Regions from separate parts of the Homo sapiens genome. Here all the other regions are reported to be linked to region 1. Evidence: microRNA targets listed by miRTarBase, many of them from high-throughput screens and not tested one by one. Region 1 holds a microRNA gene; each other region holds the end of a gene's coding sequence.
Evidence for each region. Region 1 holds the annotated microRNA hsa-miR-6758-5p (UAGAGAGGGGAAGGAUGUGAUGU, at 2,142-2,164, shown strand). A microRNA usually pairs through its seed, bases 2 to 8, with sites in the 3' UTR of a target mRNA and lowers its output. Matches are read on the target gene's strand: a 7mer-m8 pairs with bases 2 to 8, a 7mer-A1 pairs with bases 2 to 7 and ends in A, and an 8mer does both.

Region 2: miRTarBase lists PALD1 as a target of hsa-miR-6758-5p. Seed matches in the 3' UTR shown: 7mer-m8 at 1,173-1,179 and 7mer-m8 at 2,389-2,395.
Region 3: miRTarBase lists SLC25A28 as a target of hsa-miR-6758-5p. Seed matches in the 3' UTR shown: 7mer-m8 at 4,139-4,145.
Region 4: miRTarBase lists HDGFL3 as a target of hsa-miR-6758-5p. Seed matches in the 3' UTR shown: 7mer-m8 at 4,234-4,240, 7mer-m8 at 3,963-3,969 and 8mer at 814-821.

Annotation. Positions count from the first base shown.
Region 1 is chr12:57,510,552-57,515,551 of GRCh38, forward strand. It overlaps MIR6758 (microRNA 6758), which reads left to right and starts at 2,137; the gene lies at 2,137-2,199. MARS1 (methionyl-tRNA synthetase 1) reads left to right here. Exons shown (of 21, transcript NM_004990.4): 12 at 1,147-1,317; 13 at 1,457-1,552; 14 at 1,685-1,802; 15 at 2,200-2,413; 16 at 4,169-4,300; 17 at 4,403-4,507; 18 at 4,599-4,785. It also overlaps the pseudogene LOC124903093.
Region 2 is chr10:70,565,922-70,571,184 of GRCh38, forward strand. It overlaps PALD1 (phosphatase domain containing paladin 1), which reads left to right. Exons shown (of 20, transcript NM_014431.3): 20 at 660-2,529. The coding sequence ends at 812. Among named protein-coding and RNA genes, the nearest start is that of PRF1, 34 kb to the right of the region's middle.
Region 3 is chr10:99,606,474-99,611,736 of GRCh38, forward strand. It overlaps SLC25A28 (solute carrier family 25 member 28), which reads right to left. Exons shown (of 4, transcript NM_031212.4): 4 at 4,049-4,893. The coding sequence ends at 4,376. Among named protein-coding and RNA genes, the nearest start is that of SLC25A28, 11 kb to the right of the region's middle.
Region 4 is chr15:83,134,885-83,139,884 of GRCh38, forward strand. It overlaps HDGFL3 (HDGF like 3), which reads right to left. Exons shown (of 6, transcript NM_016073.4): 6 at 1-4,391. The coding sequence ends at 4,386. It overlaps TM6SF1 (transmembrane 6 superfamily member 1), which reads left to right. Exons shown (of 10, transcript NM_023003.5): 10 at 1,597-2,524. The coding sequence ends at 1,788. Among named protein-coding and RNA genes, the nearest start is that of TM6SF1, 30 kb to the left of the region's middle.

The DNA of each region.
Region 1 (5,000 bases):
CTTGAGCCTTGGAGTTTAAGACCAGCCTGGGCAACAGAGTGACACCCTACCTTAAAAAAAAAAAAGAAAATTTTTTTTTTCTTTTTTGCACTTCCTCAGCTGGCCATGGTGGTTCATGCCTGTAATTCCAGCACTTTGGGAGGCTGAGGCAGGAGGATCGCTGGAAGCCAGGAGTTTGAGAGTAGCCTGGGCAACAAAGCAAGACCCTGTCTGTATTTAAAAAAAGAAAAAATTGGTTGGGCACGGTGGCTTATGCCTGTAATTCCAACTTCCAACACTTTGGGAGGCTGAGGCGGGAGAATTGCTTGACCCCAGGAGTTTGAGACCAGGGTGGGCAACTTGGTGAAACCCATCTCTACTAAAAATACAAAAATTAACCAGGTGTGGTGGCACGTGCCTGTAGTGCCAGCTACTCAGGAGGCTGAGGTGGAAGGATCACTTAAGCCTGGGAGGTTGAGGCTGCAGTGAGCCATGATGTGCCACTGTACTCCAGCCTGGGTGACAGTGAGACCCTGATATGGACAAGATTAGCACATCCTCTGCACAAGAATGACATGCAAACTTGTGAAGTGTTCCATATTTTTAAAAATTAAAAAAAAAAAAATTTTTTTTAGGGACAGGATTTTGCTGTGTTGCCCAGGATGGTCATGAACTCCTGCCCTCAAGTGATCCTCCTGCGTCAGCCTTCGGAGTAGCTGGGATTACAGGCGCAAGCCACTGCCCCTGGCTGTGTGTTAAAAATCTAGTTAAGGCTGGGCAGGGTGGCTCACAACTGTAGTCTCAGCGCTTTTGGAGGCTGAGGTGGGCAGATTGCTTGAGCTCAGGAGTTCAAGACCAGCCTGGGCAATGTGGCAAAACCCTGTTTCTACAAAAATTACAGTCTGGCATGGTGGTGTGCACCTGTGGTCCCAGCTACTGGGGAGGTTGAGGTAGGAGGATTGCTTGAGCCCAGGAGGTTTAGGCTGCAGTGAGCTGTGATTATGATTGCACCACTGCACTCTAGTCTGGGCAACAGAGCAAGACTCTGTCTCCAAAAAAAAAGTTATATATTGCCAAATTGTGCTCCAAAAAGGTTATATGTGTTTATCCTTATGCTAACCATATATGAGACTTTCCTAAATCAGCCCTCTTTCTCCGTTATCTCAGCTGGAGAAGCGACTGGAGGAGTGGTTGGGGAGGACATTGCCTGGCAGTGACTGGACACCCAATGCCCAGTTTATCACCCGTTCTTGGCTTCGGGATGGCCTCAAGCCACGCTGCATAACCCGAGACCTCAAATGGGGAACCCCTGTACCCTTAGAAGGTTTTGAAGACAAGGTAAAAACCCTTTTTTATTCATATCATTCAGCCTTAGTGTTGAAACCCTGGGCTAGCAGAGTAGACTGCTGATTATGTCTTGTTTCAGTTTGAGACTTTGGATTGGTCCCTAACATGTTTACCTCCTTCTGACCTCCAGGTATTCTATGTCTGGTTTGATGCCACTATTGGCTATCTGTCCATCACAGCCAACTACACAGACCAGTGGGAGAGATGGTGGAAGAACCCAGAGCAAGTGAGCAGTTCTTGGTTAGGCTGTGCATGGGGAGGGTAGGCGGTAGGGTGTGGGTGTTAGGGTTGGGTGTCTGGTCTTCCTTGGGCCTTTGAAGGAGGTCTCAGGAAATCTCTCCTAACCACATTCCCCTAGGTGGACCTGTATCAGTTCATGGCCAAAGACAATGTTCCTTTCCATAGCTTAGTCTTTCCTTGCTCAGCCCTAGGAGCTGAGGATAACTATACCTTGGTCAGCCACCTCATTGCTACAGGTAAGTACCCTGGAAGACTACTGATGGGGTGTTCATAGGAAATGAGGGGTGAGGCAGTACTTGGAAAAAGATCTTGGAGAGCTGCTATCTTGAGTTAGGAGTTGAGCTGAAATAGGAAATAATTAAAATGAGAACTCAACCTAGAGAAACGAACAAGAACCTGAAGAAAGCAAAAGTCTAAAGCTAAAACTCTTTAGTAGATATAAGCAAAGAGAAAAAAGGGCCAGAATGGATAGGAAGGGACTCCCAAAATCTGAGCATACCAGCCCCTTAAGGAGAAATGTTGCTAGACACCCATAGTTGAGGTTAGAAAGAGGAAAGAAGGAAGAGTTAGTGGGCTAGAGAGGGGAAGGATGTGATGTGAGCAGATGGTTCTCACTCATTCTCCTCTGTCCAGAGTACCTGAACTATGAGGATGGGAAATTCTCTAAGAGCCGCGGTGTGGGAGTGTTTGGGGACATGGCCCAGGACACGGGGATCCCTGCTGACATCTGGCGCTTCTATCTGCTGTACATTCGGCCTGAGGGCCAGGACAGTGCTTTCTCCTGGACGGACCTGCTGCTGAAGAATAATTCTGAGCTGCTTAACAACCTGGGCAACTTCATCAACAGGTAGGACTTGGTAAGGGGTCAGAGTTAGCAGTGAGCTGGGGTGGGGCTCATTTTCCCTCAGGAGATGGGAATGTGGAGAGAACTAGAAAATGGGCAGGAGGCTGTGAGGACACTGTGGAAAGTTGATTTCTATTAATTGGGATCTGTTCCTAGCACATACTAGGCTATGTGTGCTTGATGGAACAGTTAGCTGTAGAGATGTGATTTAGCAAAGTTGGTTATAAAGTGGGTTTTTGTAAATTGTTTCCTTATTACTGTTCTTTGTAGAATTGAAGATGTATTCTCTCCCAGCAAAATAGTTCACCTGCAGATCATTGAAAAGTTTGGCTGAAGAAAGGGGTTATTTTGGTGTGGGGGTAGGAGGCTTCTGTGGGCTGGGCATGGTGGCTTACATTTGTAATCCCAGCACTTTGGGAGGCTGAGGCAGGAGGATCACTTGAGGCCGGGAGTTCAAGACTTGCCTGACCAACATAATGAATCTCCCATCTCTACAAAAAGAATCAGCCAGGCGTGGTGGCGCACACCTGTAGTCCCAGCCACTCAGGATGCTGAGGCGGGATGGTCTCTTGAACTTGGGAGATTGAGGCTGCAGTGGAGCAGTACTCGTACCCCTACACTCCAGCCTTGGCAAAAGAGGGAGATCCTGTCTCAAAAAAAAAAAAAAAAAAAGGCTTCTGCTATACTCTTCAGAGTTCAGAGTTTTTGTTACCTTAGGCTCACATTCTATCATTGGTGCCTATCTCAGCTCTTCTGCAATCTAAAGCAGTATTCTCCAGAATTTAGGATTCTTTAGTCACACTCTCTGAGCCCTGGACCCTTATAGGTCAGTCCTGCTACTCACTTTCAGCTTTGGTAATTAACCACATTTAATAAATAGTCCTTACCTACAGGAGTTCGAGACCAGCCTGGCCAACCTGGTGAAACCCCGTCTCCACTAAAAATACAAAAAGTAGCCGGGCGTGGTGGCGCACATCTGTAATCCCAGCTACTCAAGAGGTTGAGGCAGGAGAATCACTTGAACCCGGGAGGCAAAGGTTGCAGTGAGCCAAGATCATGCCACTGTGCTCCAGCCTGGGCAACAGAGTGAGAATCCTCAAAAAAAAAAAAAATTAAAAAAAAAAAAAAGTACTTGCCTAGAGTGTTTGTTTGATAGCAGTTAACACATACTCAGCTTGGTCATTTTGAGTAATGACTTTTTTTTTTTTTTTTTGAGATGGAGTTTCTCTCTTGTTGCCCAGGCTGGAGTGCAGTGGCGCGATCTTGGCTCACTGCAACCTCCGCCTCCCGGGTTCAAGCAATTCTCCTGCCTCAGCCTCCAGAGTAGCTGGGATTACAGGTGCACACCACCACGCCCGGCTAATTTTTTGCATTTTTAGTAGAGACGAGGTTTCACCATGGCCAGGCCAGGCTGGTCTTGAACTTCTGACCTCAGGTGATCTGCCCACCTCGGCCTCCCAGAGTGCTGGGATTTTAGGCGTGAGCCACTGCGCCCGGCCGAGTAATGACTTCTTAAAAATAAGAGGTACAGTTGTTTAACTTAATCAGGTTTCTTATGTGCAGAGTCAGATTCTTAGGGGAGAGAAAGAGTAAATAATTAGGCCTTGTCTACTAGCTTGAGGGAGCCAGGAGTTACCTGTTCCAGGCAGGAATCCTGAGAGAATGTACAGCTGTGGAAATTGGGTGAAATTCTAACAAGGAGACGGGATAATAACTTCCCCTCTTTTTTCCACTTCTGCTTTCCTACTCCCAACCAAGAGCTGGGATGTTTGTGTCTAAGTTCTTTGGGGGCTATGTGCCTGAGATGGTGCTCACCCCTGATGATCAGCGCCTGCTGGCCCATGTCACCCTGGAGCTCCAGCACTATCACCAGCTACTTGAGAAGGTTCGGTAAGTAACTGACACCTCTGTCTTTTCTGCTGGCATGTTGAGAGCCTCCTTGTATTGGTCTCTGTAGGACATTACACCTTGGCCTGCTTCCTCCCTTCCCAGGATCCGGGATGCCTTGCGCAGTATCCTCACCATATCTCGACATGGCAACCAATATATTCAGGTGAATGAGCCCTGGAAGCGGATTAAAGGCAGTGAGGCTGACAGGTAGGTAAGCGGGGAGGGTTGGCTAAAGGCATAAAGTGGCTTGTAAGCTGTATCCTCCTGGAGGTCTTGACTAATGTCTCCTCTTCCTCAGGCAACGGGCAGGAACAGTGACTGGCTTGGCAGTGAATATAGCTGCCTTGCTCTCTGTCATGCTTCAGCCTTACATGCCCACGGTTAGTGCCACAATCCAGGCCCAGCTGCAGCTCCCACCTCCAGCCTGCAGTATCCTGCTGACAAACTTCCTGTGTACCTTACCAGCAGGACACCAGATTGGCACAGTAGGTGGAAGAGCCAGCCTCTCTTAAAATTGATACTCTTGCCATGCAGCTTTTGGAGTGGGTGAGAGAAGACCTAACATCTCTCCAGTGTTACTTTGGTCATGGGACTCCTAAGTTTCTGATATAAAGTCCTTGGTAGTCGTTCACAAGTCCGGAATTATCTGTACATCTTCATTGTTCTTCATGCCAGAAACCAGAACCTGGCACACAAAACT
Region 2 (5,263 bases), not on the chromosome of region 1:
AAGGAGGGCTGCCGGTCCAGGCAGAAGTGTGGGTTCCAGCCTCGGGACCTCAGCCCCTCTCTCCTGCGGATGAGTGGAGGGTAGCAGTGAGGGAGGCCCCAGAGCGGGACGGACCCATTCCTTTGTTCTAAGTGGAGGCTGCACCCTCCCCTTCCCCAGGATGGTGGAGAGAGAAGGGGACTGGTTGTGGATGGTTTGAGTCTGGTGCCAGGGTCTGGGCTGCTGGGCGGCAGGGCTGAGTGTCCAGGGGTGCCTCCAGCTAGCCCACCTGGGGCAGAGGCCATAGCCTTACCTGCCCCTGCATCCACGTTCTTCCTCCAGCCCTCCCTTTAGGCCCTGCTCCTGGGCGTCCACGTGGGAGCATCGAGCTGCACAGGGCCCAGTGTGTGCCTGGCCTCCCTCGCTGCTATCTGTGTGGAGCACTCACTGTCTGCCCAGTACTTTCTGTATGTGTAGAGTCCTCCTTGAGACAGTCCTGTGAGGTAGAGTCTTTTCCTTGCTATGAGGAAACTGACGCTCAGAGAAGTTAACAGAAGTCAAGGTGCAAACTTGTTCAGGTCACCAAGTTCACAGGCCACAGACTCATCTTCAGAACTCAGTGGCCTTAGTGGCACCCTCCCTCCCCTGAAACACTGCTCCTGCCTCTGCTCTCCTCCCAGGTGGCATCGAAGGCTGGCATCTACGAGATCCTTAACGAGCTGGGCTTCCCCGAGCTGGAGAGCGGGGAGGACCAGCCCTTCTCCAGGCTGCGCTACCGGTGGCAGGAGCAGAGCTGCAGCCTCGAGCCCTCTGCCCCCGAGGACTTGCTGTAGGGGGCCTTACTCCCTGTCCCCCCACCCACAGGGCCCCACGCAGGCCTGGGGTGTCTGAGGTGCTCTTGGCTGGGAGCGGCCCTGAGGGGTGCTGGCCTTGAAATGATTCCCCCACTTCCTGGAGAGACTGAGCGGAGTTGGGAGCCTTTTTAGAAAGAACTTTTTATAGGACAGGGAGACAGCACAGCCATCCCTTGCAAACCACCAAGGTGTGTGGCTGACCTCCAGGGAGGAGCACTCACTGGAGTGCTCACAAGGTGCACACTGCTGTGTGTACCTTGCAGACAGGCCGGCGTTCAGCCTCCAAGGGGCTCACTCCCCCAGTTGCCAAACACTGTGGATCTCTCTGTCCTCTTCTCCCCTCTCTCAGATTGGCCTGGCAGCCCCTGGCACAGAGCAGACCCGGCCACTGGTAGCTCCCCACTTCCTTACTCCTGCTGCTCTGCCATTGCCGCTCCCCTTGTTGCTGCCCAAGCACTGCCCTCGGGCGTCTGGCAGCCTGAGGTGGGTGGAGGGGACAGTGTTCTGGATAGATCTATTATGTGAAAGGCAGCTTCACCCAGTTTTCTGGACTCTCATGCCCCCATCTCCGACCTGGGAGACTTCAGGAATGACAACCTACCCAGCCTGGTGGGGCTGGCAGGATGGTGGAGGTTTCTCAAGGAGCTGGAGACTTCAGGGAGCCCCTCTCATGGGGAGGAAAGAGCTTCCAGGGGGCGAACGCAGCACAGAGGAAGAGGCCTGCTCCACTTGTCTGGGAACCTGGGCAGGAGGCACAGAGGAAGCCAAGGCCTGGAGCTGCAGGTCCCCCGGCATCTCTCTCTGTCCCGGCAGCCCAGGATGGCCTGGTGCCCCCACCTGCTGCAGCAGGAGCCCCAAGGAGTGCTAGCTGAGGGTGGTTGCTGGGGTGGTCCTCATGGACAGTGAGGTGTGCAAGGGTGCACTGAGGGTGGTGGGAGGGGATCACCTGGGTTCCAGGCCATCCTTGCTGAGCATCTTTGAGCCTGCCTTCCGGTGGGAGCAGAAAAGGCCAGACCCTGCTGAGTTAGAGGCTGCTGGGATCCACTGTTTCCACACAGCGGGAAGGCTGCTGGGAACAGGTGGCAGAGAAGTGCCATGTTTGCGTTGAGCCTTGCAGCTCTTCCAGCTGGGGACTGGTGCTTGCTGAAACCCAGGAGCTGAACAGTGAGGAGGCTGTCCACCTTGCTTGGCTCACTGGGACCAGGAAAGCCTGTCTTTGGTTAGGCTCGTGTACTTCTGCAGGAAAAAAAAAAAAGGATGTGTCATTGGTCATGATATTTGAAAAGGGGAGGAGGCCGAAGTTGTTCCCATTTATCCAGTATTGGAAAATATTTGACCCCCTTGGCTGAATTCTTTTGCAGAACTACTGTGTGTCTGTTCACTACCTTTTCAGGTTTATTGTTTTTATTTTTGCATGAATTAAGACGTTTTAATTTCTTTGCAGACAAGGTCTAGATGCGGAGTCAGAGATGGGACTGAATGGGGAGGGATCCTTTGTGTTCTCATGGTTGGCTCTGACTTTCAGCTGTGTTGGGACCACTGGCTGATCACATCACCTCTCTGCCTCAGTTTCCCCATCTGTAAAATGGGAGAATAATACTTGCCTACCTACCTCACAGGGGTGTTGTGAGGATTCATTTGTGATTTTTTTTTTTTTTGTACAGAGCTTTTAAGCATTAAAAACAGCTAAATGTGAGTGCACCTGGCTGCTAATATGTCTTTAGTGTCAGACAGACGTTCTAGAACTGGTACAACAGGCTGAGGTCCCTGCCCCTTCAGAGTAAGGGTGGGCAGGCAGAGTGAGTTGAGAGCACCTGTTCTTGGCACTTCCAGCTCTAGAGCAGGCGGGTTTTTGCAGACACGCATCCCCAGTTTTGCCTCACCCTCTTACACTGGATGTCAGGCTGAGCTCCTCCTTGAAGAAAGCAACGGAACCAGCGAATTCTCACTAACATATGAAGGATTGCTGCATCTAGGGAAACAGTATAGAGCAAAGTGGAATTGGGGGCCTGTGAAGGAGCCTGGATCTCAGCCTCCACTTTCTCCCCTAACCCCTGTGGGCCCCACCTGACCCCTTTGGGCCTCTGGTTGATTGAACACACCTCACCCCTGGTTGAGTGCTGGCATTTAAAGAGTCAGTGGGGAGGGTGGGGTAGAGACAGCACTGACTCCAGGCCTCTTCCCCCATGCTTGCAGGGTTAGGGGAACAAGGTTGTAGTTCCGAGGTCAGCTGGGGTGGGCAGAATGGAACCCAGAGCCCCCACCGCCCCTAGGGTTGGTGTTCTCCCCAGACTAGGAGAGAAGGCCCCGGGGGTTCTTTCCCAGCCCAGCAGGGTATGGAAGTTGTCTTCTCTAGGTGCAAGAATGCTCTGTGTGGCTTCTGGACACCAGTGTAGAGCTGTGTACACCGGGGTGGGGTGGAGGGGGGTGGGGGTGGGGGTGGCTCTGCCATTCTCTCCCTGGGATGTGGGGACACACAGGAGTGAGTGGGTGTGCCTGTGTGTGTTCCCAAGTTCCCCTGGGCCTGCTGTAGCCTGTGGGAGGACGCTTAGCAATGACATGAATGGCACTGACCCACATTTCAGTAGCTCCTGCTGGTCAGCAGCATCTCAGCCCTCATGGTAAATGAGTGAACCCAGCACAGCAAAGGAGCAATCAGCAGAGTTAGGGAGCCTACCGAATAGGAGACGGCATTTGCAAACCATCCATCTGATAAGGGGTTAGTATCCCAAATCCATAGGAAACCCAAACAATACAATAGTAAAAAGCAAGTAACTCAAAAGAACACACACAAATGACCCACAGGCATATGAAAGAAATGTCCGGTATCACTAATCACCAGGGAAAGGCAATGGAAACCACCTCACACCTGTTAGGATGGCTGCAGGAAGAGACAGAAGAGAAGTGCTGGCGAGGATGTGGAGACAGGAAACCCTCGCACCCTGTTGGTGGTATTGTCGGTTAGTATACACGTTCTGGAAAACACTGGGGTGGGGGGTCCTCAGAAAACCAAAAATAGGACTGTGTATGATCCAGCCATCCCACTCCTGGGTACACATGCAAAGGAAATGGAATCCGTGTGTCAGAGAGGTGTCTGCACCCCATGTTCACTGCAGCATTATTCACAGTAGCCAAGACATGGGATCAGTGTGTTCATCAGTGGATGAATGGATAAAGAAAATGTGGTCTGTATACAATGGGATACTATTCAGCCTTTAAAAAGGAAATCCTGGCCAGGCGCAATGGCTCACGCCTGTAATCCCAGCACTTTGGGAGGCCGAGGTGAGTGGATCACTTGAGGTCAGGAGTTCGAGACCAGCCTGCTCAACATGGTGAAACCTGAAACCCCGTCTCTACTTAAAATACAAAAATTAGCCAGATATGGTGGTAGGTGCCTGTAATCCCAGCTACTTGGGAGGCTGAGGCAGGAGAATCACTTGAACCTGGGATGTGGAGGTTGCAGTGAGCTGAGATCACGCCACTGCACTCCAGCCTGGGCCATGGAGCAAAACTCCATCTCAAAAAAAAAAAAAAAAAAAAAAATCCTGTCATTTGTGACAACATGAGTGAACCTGGGGAACACTATCCTGAGTGAAATAAGCCAGGCACAAAAAGACAAGTATCACATGATCTCATATGTGGAGTCTAAAAAAATCCAACTCAGAGTAACATGGTGGTTACCAGAGGCTGGGGTGGAATGGGGTGAGGTTGGGGAGATGTTGGTCAAAGTTCACAGCATTTCGGTTAGAGTAAGTTCAAGGGATCTATTGTATATCATGCTTACTACAGTTGATAACAATGTTGTGTATTTGAAAATTGCAGAGAGAAGATTTTAAGTGTTCTCGTAACTTGGTAGCTATGTGTCACCAAATGATAAGTATGTGAGGTAAGGTGTATGTTAAATATCTTGACTTAGCCACTTCACAACGTATATATACCTCAAGACATCCTTTTGTACACCGTAAACATATACAACTTAGCAGCTCATTTTAAGAAAGTACCATTTAGTCTGATCTTTCCTCTGTGTTAATCTAAACTAGTGATTTTTTTTTTTTTTCGATGAAATCTTTTTCTGTCGCCCAGGCTGGAGTCCAGTGGCGCGATCTTGGCTCGCTGCAACCTCCACCTCCTGGGTTCAAGCGATTCTCCGGCCTCAGCCTCCCAAGCAGCTGGGATTTTAGGCACGCATCACCACACCCAGCTAATTTTTGTATTTTTAATAGAGACAAGGTTTCGCCATGTTGGCCAGACTGGTCTCAAACTCCTGACCTCAGGTGATCCACCTGCTTTGGCCTCCCAAAGTGCTGGGATTACAGGTGTCAGCCACTGCGCCTGGCCACTAGTGATGTTTTGATACATTCTTTGTTATGTCTCTTTCTTAAATACCAGTACATATTGCTGAATTATAATATTAAAAAACGAGTTAATAT
Region 3 (5,263 bases), not on the chromosome of region 1:
TGAGATATTACTTCAGATTTTTACTCAGCAACCACCTGCTCAAGAACCACAAGAGCTCCTCATTAGCTGCCAAGGCAAGTCTAAACTCTTTTGCCTAGCTTTCAGGATCTCCATGCTCTGACCCCTCCCAGGGTGATATGACAGCTGTCTTAATATTTTTGAAGGGCTGTCAGAGAGAAGGATTAGTCTGATTCTGTGCTGCCCCAGCAAGCAGAAGGTACTATCACAGGTGGAAATTACAGAAAGATTTAAGTGCCTCGAAGTGTAAACATTTTCCATTCTACTTAGGGTGGCAGAGGTGGTGGTGGCGGTGGTGGCAATAAAGGGAATACTGTGTGTGACTCCAACAGAACTTGTTCTCCACTTACCAGTCTAAGATTCCAGGAAATAACAAAATACTGCACATCCAGTAGGTTGATGTATATATCATTAAGTATTTTTTCTATGTATAATTTTTTTGTAATTTTCAAAAATGAGATCTCACTATAACCAATTTCTTTCACATAACAGAATACAGTGTCTATCTTTCCGCATCATTAAATTTTCTTCCATCATCTCAGTATAAATGGCATGCCACATTTCATTGTATGAATGTTCAATAATATCAATAGCTTATTCAATAAGTCCCCTGTGGCACTTTTTTTTTTTTTTTTTTGAGACAGAGTCTTGATCTGTCACCCAGGCTGGAGTGCAGTGGCACCATCTTGGCTCACTACAACCTTTGCCTCCTAGGTTCAAGTGATTCTTGTGCCTCAGCCTCCCGAGTAGCTGGGACTACAGGTGCATGCCACCACCCTGGCTAATTTTTGTATTTTTAGTAGAAATGGGGTTTCACTATATTGGCCAGGCTGGTCTCGAACTCCTGGGCTCAAGTGATCTGCCTGCCTTGGCCTCTCAAAGTGCTGGGATTACAGGCTCGAGCCACCATGCCCGGCCCCCTGTGGCACCTTTATAATATCAGAAACATTGCTATGGGTAGGTAGAATCTGAATGATCAAAAGGAGGATAGATAGGTTGGTGGAGAGAGAAAGTTCAGAGTGGTGAGACAGTCTGGCACCATCTCCTGACAGGCATTGAAGATATCCGGCCTGGAGACCAGGACGCAGGTTACCGGATAGTGGGGCTGAGGCTGGCCCTGAGAACATCTAGATCTAGGAGGCTTCTTAGAGGTCATCTTGCTTTGCAACCCTCCAGGAGTTCGACTTCACTGTATAGCATCCCTGGCAGGGCTGACCAGCCCCAGCTCCTGTATTTTAGAGCTCGCTGCTGTGCAATGCTATCCGTGTCATTGCTGCAAAGCTCTGTCTGTTAGAAGGTCAAGTTCTCTGGGTAATGGGATTCGAAGTATTTTCTTTTTATCTGTGCTTTCTAAATTTTATGAAATTAGCATGATTCAACATTTATTGGCTTTTACGAAAGTATTTTTTAATTCTATTCATCAAAGCCACCTTCTTCTCTGTTTACTCTGCCTACACTTATCTTTCCTGTCTCTAAATCTCATTGTTAATTTCTGTATAATCCAGTACATGTCTATATAGTGTCTTGTGTTATTAAAAGTTTGTTTCACTCATGTTGGTCTCAGCTCTCCAATGAAGAACATTTTCCTCTGGCCAAATTGTGACTTATTTTCTCATTTTCCCTGACACATAGCACTGTGCAGGAATTGGCCACTTGATGATGGCTTGGTACTGGATTCTCCAGGTGTCACATGAACTACCTGGCTCTCCACAGAGGCTCTGGACCTGGGGATGCCCCCAAACACCCACAGTTCTCCTGGGTCTGCTGAGCCCCTTGGAAATGACCCAGGTATCCAGTCACTGGCATTGCTAATGTTCAACCTGTCACATTATTCTGCCTCTATCTCCCCTTTGACCTCTAGTGACTGGGCCAAGAGACCTGCAGAACCTAGTGTCCTGTCCAGATTCCAAACTAAATGTCCTCCAGTAGCTACAGCACAACTGGAGGCTGGAAGATCACTTTTGTATTCTTTTCTCATTATTTGTGAACAGCATTAGAGCTGAGGTGGTCTCTAGCCGCTACCAATCTTTAAGAAATTACCCCGCAATCCATTCTTGAAAAATAAGCCTTATTGCCATTGTGCCTACTGTGTGTCAGATACCATGCCAGACAGCTCTGTAAAGCCGACCGCAGAGACTAGGTCCTGACAGCCATCCCTTTGCTCTCTTGCTCAGTCCATATGGGAGGCAGCTACTCAATTACATTTTTACTAGCAAACCCTCTGAAATGACCTTTACAATGATATCATCACACTCTTTTTACTCAGCAACCACCGCTTAGCACTATTAATCTCTCCTCTCCACGCTAAATCAGAGGGGCAGCATAGCCTACTTAAATAAAGCTTAGGAGACCCTGCTGGTTTCTCGACAGTTTTTTTTCAAGTGCATTCAGACATGATTCTCCATAGATATTGAAGGGCTGTCAGATGGGAGGAGGACGAGATCTACTCTGTGACCGAATCCTATTGCTTCTACAACCCTAACATGGCTCCCGGCTCCATGCCACAGTCCTGCTTCAGACCACCATGCACTTGCCTGGATTACCACAGCAGCCTCCTAACCAGTTGGCCTGCCTGTCCAGTCTTGCTCCTCTAATCCTTTCTCCAGAGAGCCTAAGTGATCTGTTTAAATTGTAAATCTGATCACACCACACCTCTGCTTAAAACTCCGTAATGCTTTTGCATGGCCTTCAGGATAAATCTAAACTCCATAGCATCGCTTTGAAGACCCAGTGTCTGCTTGGCTCTCAGGCTGCATGTCTTGCCCAGATTGTTTCAGTCCTACCAAACCACTTGCACACCAAATCCCAAATACTTTTTAATTCTCTTACCTCCAGGTCTTTGCCTAGAACATAACCCCTCCCCTCTTCACCAAGTTAGCTCATTTGCCTTCCAGGTGTCACCTCAGATGTTACTTCCTCCAAATGTCTACCCTGGTCACCCAAGGCTACGCTGGGTATCCTTCTGTCTTCTGAGTATCCTAGGTTTATTCTATCTTCTCTCCTGTCATTTTGTTTTGTAATTGCCTGTTTCCATGTATCTTCCTCTCCAGACAGTAAGCTCCTTGAGGGCTGGGATTGTTTTTATCTATCATTGTATTTCCAACACCAGTGCTTGCCACAGAGACACTCAATAGTTAATGAATGAATGACAGATGACCTAACAAGGATAGGTGGAAGACTCAGAGGGGTACATTTCTATGTACTGAAGAACTTGCTAATAACTGGTGATATATAAAAAAAAAAAAAAAAAAAAAAAAAAAAAAAAGGAACACACTGACCCACCAAGCACAGGGAAAGCCCCATCTCTGAAAAGTCTCCAAGCAGAGCCTAACTGGTCATCAGGCAGGGAGCTTCCTCAGTAGATGGCAGTAGATGTGAGATGCCCTCCACTCATTTCCCATCTGTAGGAAGCCACGCTTAGATTCATTCGTGAGGTCAAAACACTTGGGCTGGGGTCCCACTTCTGCACTGACTGTGAGACTTTGGACTAGTCACAGCCTCTGAGCTTTCTTGCTTGTGAAATACAAATGACACCTGCACTGCCTACTTCAGAGATTTTGTGAGGTTCAAATGAGATCACACATGCTCAAGTACTCTGTGAAAGCCTTAAAATAAAATGAAATGTATTATTTACCATGTAATCTTCAGGACTTGCAGCTTCACTGAATAATTTGAGTTTCACAACTAAAATGGAAAACCAAGTGCCACACTGTAAAGCACTGCTGCAGGCAGAGCTGCGAATTAGAGCAGAGATCTGCCCCTTCTGTGCTGCGCTACCGCCCTAGGGAAGACAGTGGGGATCTGGAGCATCTGATTGGTTGGGATCTGTCAAGGGCTTGTTGTTCTAGCCATCAGGGAGATTGCTTGGGGCCTACCACTAATGTCTTAAATTGTCATGAAAATCAGCAGAAAACTACAGACATACTCAATAAACCTTTCCTTTGGGTCCCTTGATTTATGCTTAAAGGAAAGTCAAGAACAGTTAACAGCATTTCACTTCCCCTTTAGCAAGACAAACCCAATGAAACCATTTAATTTAAAGGCTTTTTATTAGGAACCAGGGGAATGAGCTGCTTATCCCTCTATAACAGTCTAGAGCAGGTCATCAGGCCCAGGATGGAGAGAGGTTATCAAAGGTGCTGTGGTGTGCTTTGCTGCACGTGCTTAGGGCCTGGAAGGAAAGGTGGTGGCAACAGAGGTTGGCAGGAACTGGTGTTAGTCAAAACACCAAAATCCTGGGGGAGAGCCCCTCTACCTTCCTTCTAACTCCACTTGAGGTGGGAGCATTCCAGGAGACAGAGAATGTGACCAGGATGCAGCAGTGTCATCTGAACCCCTGGCTTCGTTCAGTGCTACTTCACTTGCCAGCCCTCCACTCTTCTTGCCTTTTAGTGATTAGGTATTTGAAGAACTCATACACAGACCATGCGATGGCTGTGGAGGGGATCTGGTAAATTACTCTGGCCTGCACCCCTCGGAAATAGGCGGTCACCCCACCTACTTGATATACCGTCCTGAAGGCACTAGCCATGCCTGTGATATGTCCTGTAATGTGTGAGTTCAAAGCCAAGGACTCCTGGGTGTTGAGCAGTGTTTTGCAAACGTCCAGTGGGGTTGTGGCTGCGGCAGCTACAGCTCCTGCGCAAGCTCCAGAGAGGACGTGGGAGCTTGGGTTGTACCGTCTCTGGGGGTTAAAGTGCTCCTGCAGGAATTCATAGGTCATGAAGTGAATGGCTTGGAAAGGAACGTTCATGGTCAGCTGGGTGGTGTAGCTGCGGTAAAAGGCCCCGGCCCCTTCATTTTGCCACACTGCCCGTACACAGTCTGTCACCCGGTGGTATGGTGAGTTGTACATCTGCATCCTCTGCTTGACCACTAGTAGTGCCATCAACGAGGAAGGAAATGGTGACAGCAGCCAACCGGTGATGGAGAGTATCCAGATTCAGAGCCCCAAGTCAGCAGATCAGCCAATGGAATAGAGAGAGAAAAAAGTATGAGTGAGCTGCTGGCTAACCTGAGAAGTCAGCTTCCCTTTTTTGAGGGGAAGGAGTAAGCAGAGGGTTGGTAACGAGTCAAAAAACAATAAACCCACTTCCATCAGGACTTCTGTAAAGCCAGCCAGTTCGCACACAGGACATATCTACAGTTTGGGAGCTTCAGAGAGTCTTCTTGAACTAAGTACCTATCTCTGATCTTACCCTCTAACAATTCCCAACAAGAAATGACTCCATGATAGTGATCATCA
Region 4 (5,000 bases), not on the chromosome of region 1:
GTTCCTAGAATGTCCAGAAAGCACCTCCTCAGGGCAGCCCTGAAAGTGCCCTTTACTCTCAAGGCATTTTGTCCTCAGAGCCCAGAGATGCATATACATTTGCTGGGTTCTGCCTGGGCATCTACCCAGGGGAGTTGTATCTGAGGGCCGAGTCCTCTCAGTGCCTCATGGATCACAATGTAGACAATCCACGTGCTGGTCCTTGGCAATACATCATGCTAATTTAATTTATATCTCCAGAGTAGCAAAAATGTACCACAGGTCTCCAGAATATATCAGGAATTTGTAAAAATGCAGCCCATTAAAATATCTGCCACTGATAAAAAATTCATAAAGATGCTGCTTAAAAAAACTTGTCCTTTTCTTGTCATGGTGAAGTCAAGTAAGTAACACCTTTATCTGTGAAATCACTCAGCAGAATAAATTGGTTTCATATGGAAGAAATGTAAAATAACTTATATGTATTTAAAGCAAATTATCTAGTTCTTCATTCTTGTTACTTCTATGCCTTCTCTATAGTGCAGTCTTTTGTCTCTTTGATCCTGATGAACTGATAATTTACTACTTATTACATTTAGATTCCCAATCCTTTATTCATGTGTATCTTGAATTTCAGCAAGATATGAAAATGCAGACTCCAGGGGTACATTTTGTAATGATACAAGCCTTCTGAGGAAATTTTCTGACAGGAGCTTTTAATCCTGCTGTGGTCTGTTTTACCCTTTCCAATACGGTTTTCCTCTGTGCTTGCGAAAAATATCAAAAAAGACCAATTGGCACATTCTGAATGTGTTTTCTGAATAAGTATATAAGTAGAGAGGGAGGCCATTTTGCAAATGCGGATAATGCTGACATGTCGTACTTCTAAATAAATTATAATTTGATTTAAAAAGGTTGCCTGCATGTACATTTGCCATTTTACAAAGAGCAACCGTACTCCTACCTCCACCCAAGTTGGTAACAACCTTATCTTACAAACAACCCTTAATATTTTAAAAGCTGCAGAAAAAACAAATACATGAATAAATGAATAAACAAAAAACACATAGGGAAAGGGTATGAGCTCTTGCTGCAAGGAGTAGATGAAAGACTGATAAATGAAGCTGAGGTCCCCCCAGTGCTTCCCTTTCAATAGTTTATGCTAAAAATATTTGTTTTTTAAAACTCTGCGCTTTCTTCATTTTTATTGGAACGCAATTTGTGAACCACAACTGAGTCTGTATGCAGGATCTCCAGAACGCAAATCAGAAAAAAATTTGAGATTTTATTCAGATTTTTCTATTAGATTGAGCCACTAATGTTCGGTAAGGGGCACTTGATGGTTAAAAAACACAACTGGCATGATAAAACTACACTAAATAATATCTACTTTATTTGAACAGTCATATCAAGAATGGCCCTAAATTTAATCAAGGACTAAATTTAATGAAAGACTCTGACATTAAAGACTCTGGATTGTTTGAAGGTATTTTGCCTGCAGGTGAGACTGGTTTTGAGGGCACAGAAACGTAGCCTGAATGAACCATTCAGAACTCATCATGCATCCAACTGAACACGTTTCATGCTTACTCAATTTTTTTTTTTTAAATGCAACAGGCTCAGTTTTCTCACATTGGTGCATCTCTTCATGCTAGAACTGCTTATGTCTACAGAGTCCCTGAAGAAGCAAAAATCCTTTTTTTAGCATTAAACATAGCATATGGAGTTCTTCCTCAGCTCTTGGCCTATCGTTGTATCTACAAACCAGAGTTCTTCATAAAAACAAAGGCAGAAGAAAAAGTGGAATAAAAATATTACTTCATGTTCCTCCTTTCTAAATTACTAACTTTTGTTATACTGGTACTGATATTTTGTCCCATTTCACTCTCTTCTCATACGTGAGTACTTAAGAATATGTACATTCTTGCTCTGCACTGTATGTGTGAGCTATATGGTATTGTGTAAATTTTTTTTGAAGGAAAATGGAAATTCTTGAGAAACAGTTTGTTTAAAGAAATATATTCAAAATCATTTGTGAATAAACTTGATCATCCATCTCAATATTGTTTGACATATAAAATAATTATAAGTGTAAAAAATTACAATTTAGTGCCAACAGTAGTGAGCATGAAATGAAACTATTCAAAAGAGAATATGGCCTGTGCATATTAAAAAATTCAAAACAGTGAATGCAGACTGGAGGAGTAACTTTTGCAAATAAGATGAATATGCTTCATTATTAAACTCAATATAAAAGGCAAATCATCAGAATATTTTTAAATGTTGTTTGAAAAATGTTTTCCCAAGGAAAGTTTATTATTTGCTGCTGTTTCAAGAAAATTACTTTTACTAAATTTTTTTGTGTGAATTTAAACAGCTAAATAGGGATCAGTAACTTTATCTCTATCCTTAATGAACATTTGTTTTATTGGTGGCTGGAAATATTTCTATTGTATTTCTGTGTATATTTTTAATAAAATTATTTTTGGCCTCTTATAAAGACAAATCTTATTAAATTTGAAACATTTCATATATACACATAAAACGCTTTTAAAGAAAATTTGTGAGTTGTATATTCCAATTCAAAATGCCATCTACATTCCCCTTATGTTTCAGTGTGAGCAATGAAGAGGTCTTTTGATGAATTAAATTTCATTAATTAAAAAATACATTCAAATATTCAAAATTAAAAAGGACCTTTTAAGGAAGAAGTATTAGATCGACATCCCTACTATCTTTTTATGAACTTTTCATGTTTGGGATTGTATGTTGAGTATACTAGAGAAAATCAGTATTCACTAAATGAAAGAAACACACCAAAAATACAAACAGCCACCTCCTCACTGTGCCCTGGAATGATAAATGGACTGGTGCTTTCATACCCTTAGCTGCCATCATCACCATCATCATTATTAACGGCCCTAGGCTTTTAGGTCTGCTCACATTTTCTCATGTTTTTATTAGCTCTCATCAAGAAAACCAAAAGAAAATGGGATACAAATCAATGCATGGATAATATCAAATTACAAAATCTAGGGTCCACTGGGCTGGTAAATATGTAAGTGTAAGCAAATCATGTAGTCATCTCCCCATCATCCCCTACAGTGTTTTCAAATAATCTAAAACCCAGAGAGTGTTTAAAAAAAAAAAAAGAAAGAAAAAGAAAAACCCTCACCTGCACTTGATTCTATTGTCAGCTTGCTGTGAACAATTTTTGCTTTAATATATGAATTACATTAATACCTCACGTTACATATATGAAGCCAAATTACACTAACTTAGTTTGCTTACAACCTCAAATCTTACTCCCAGTACACATTCCAATAAATTTATTCTGTAAAAACAATACATTTTTTTGTTTTTGATTTTTTTACAGTAAACTTTTCAACTACAAACCGTGAATACGCGAAAGATGTTCCAAGGACAAGCATTAACAGGATTGATAAAACCCAAACTGACTAAATGTGTTCTCACAATATAAGCTGGCATAAAAATAAATAAAATTCTCTATTATCACAATAGCAACAATAATGTACACATAATAATGGTTTAAGGATGAATATTAACTATTCTAATTGTAGTTCCAAAAGAAAACAGTTTATTTTAAAAGTCTACATTTAAAAGTCAATGCTTTGTCTGGTTTCCCATAGGGCTGTTGCTGATTCCAGCTTTAAAATGTAAAGTATCCACCTTGAGTGCTTAGCTCAAAATTGTATTGGCACTGGGAAAAAAATAAATCATTGCCTTTATTTTGGAGTAACACAAAAAGACTCACTAACTTCACATATAGAAACTTAGTTTGTGTACATAACAATATGAATTTTGAGAAGTATAAGCTGTCAACTAGCTATTTCTAATACGGAATAGATATTTTACAATATGGTTAAACTTTACACATGGCCTCAAAACTGAAGGACAATTTTAATTTCGTCTTCAATATACCAACGTTATGTATTTAGGAATTAATTCCTGGGTTCTGTCACAGAGAGGAAATTCCATTCTTAAGCATTATGTTGAGTGGTCATCTAAAAAATGTTAATTTATATTTAACTGAGTGTTTGATGATGGTGGGGTCAAGGCAGGAAAACGATGATCATAACTGCCTTGATAAAAGGATCCTAGACATGTATAAGTCTGCGCAAAAATCTTGATAATCCTTAGTGGTTAAGGGCAACTTCATGCAACCAAATAACATGAAATTAAATCAGTAACTTTTAAAAAAGGCTAAAATGTCTTTTCCCCCCGAAACACAACAGAGAGGAATATGAATAATGTACATACAAACTGGGGTTCTGTCAATGACAACAAGGACTATGTGTTGGTTCATATCAAATCCAAGAATATTAGACAACCAAACATATAACCTTCTTGTGGTTTCTCTTAATATGCAGCATTCATTATGGTAGTTAGGTCTGTAAAAAAAAAAAAAAGAAAGAAAACAAGCCTTTAGATGATTTAGGATACTAACAATGAGAGCTATCCACACCTAGATAGTACATAATTGGGTTTTCTGAAATTTTAATATGCACTGCAGCATTAACAATACTTACTGAGCAAGAGCAGCTTCTGTGGCTTTGCTTTAGACCTGTCAGTGCAAAAAGTTAAAGGAAATCCTAGGGTATTTTTAGTGTCCCATAGAAAAAAATTATAAACCTTGTCTACTGTCTGTTAGGACAGAGTGCAGCAGTGCACATTCTACAATTCTAGGACTATGTTTATTGCTGGAATACATCATCAGTGGAGAAATTGATATAATCTATCTTTGTGAGGACATTCTTCAGAAAGAAAGGTAAGCTGTGTAAAATTTAAAAAGCACTTAGAGTGTGCACCAATTAATCTTCAGAATATTTATAACTTAATTACTTGTGACACATAGCTCAAACAAATGTAGAAGTTAATCATGATGTACAAAGTCTCTGACTTCTTGCTTTTAAAAAAAACATAAAGAATAAGAGGAAGCCTAGATTTCTTTTAAAATTTAGATGGCATCCGTGTGACAAACAGAAAATAAAACATTTGTT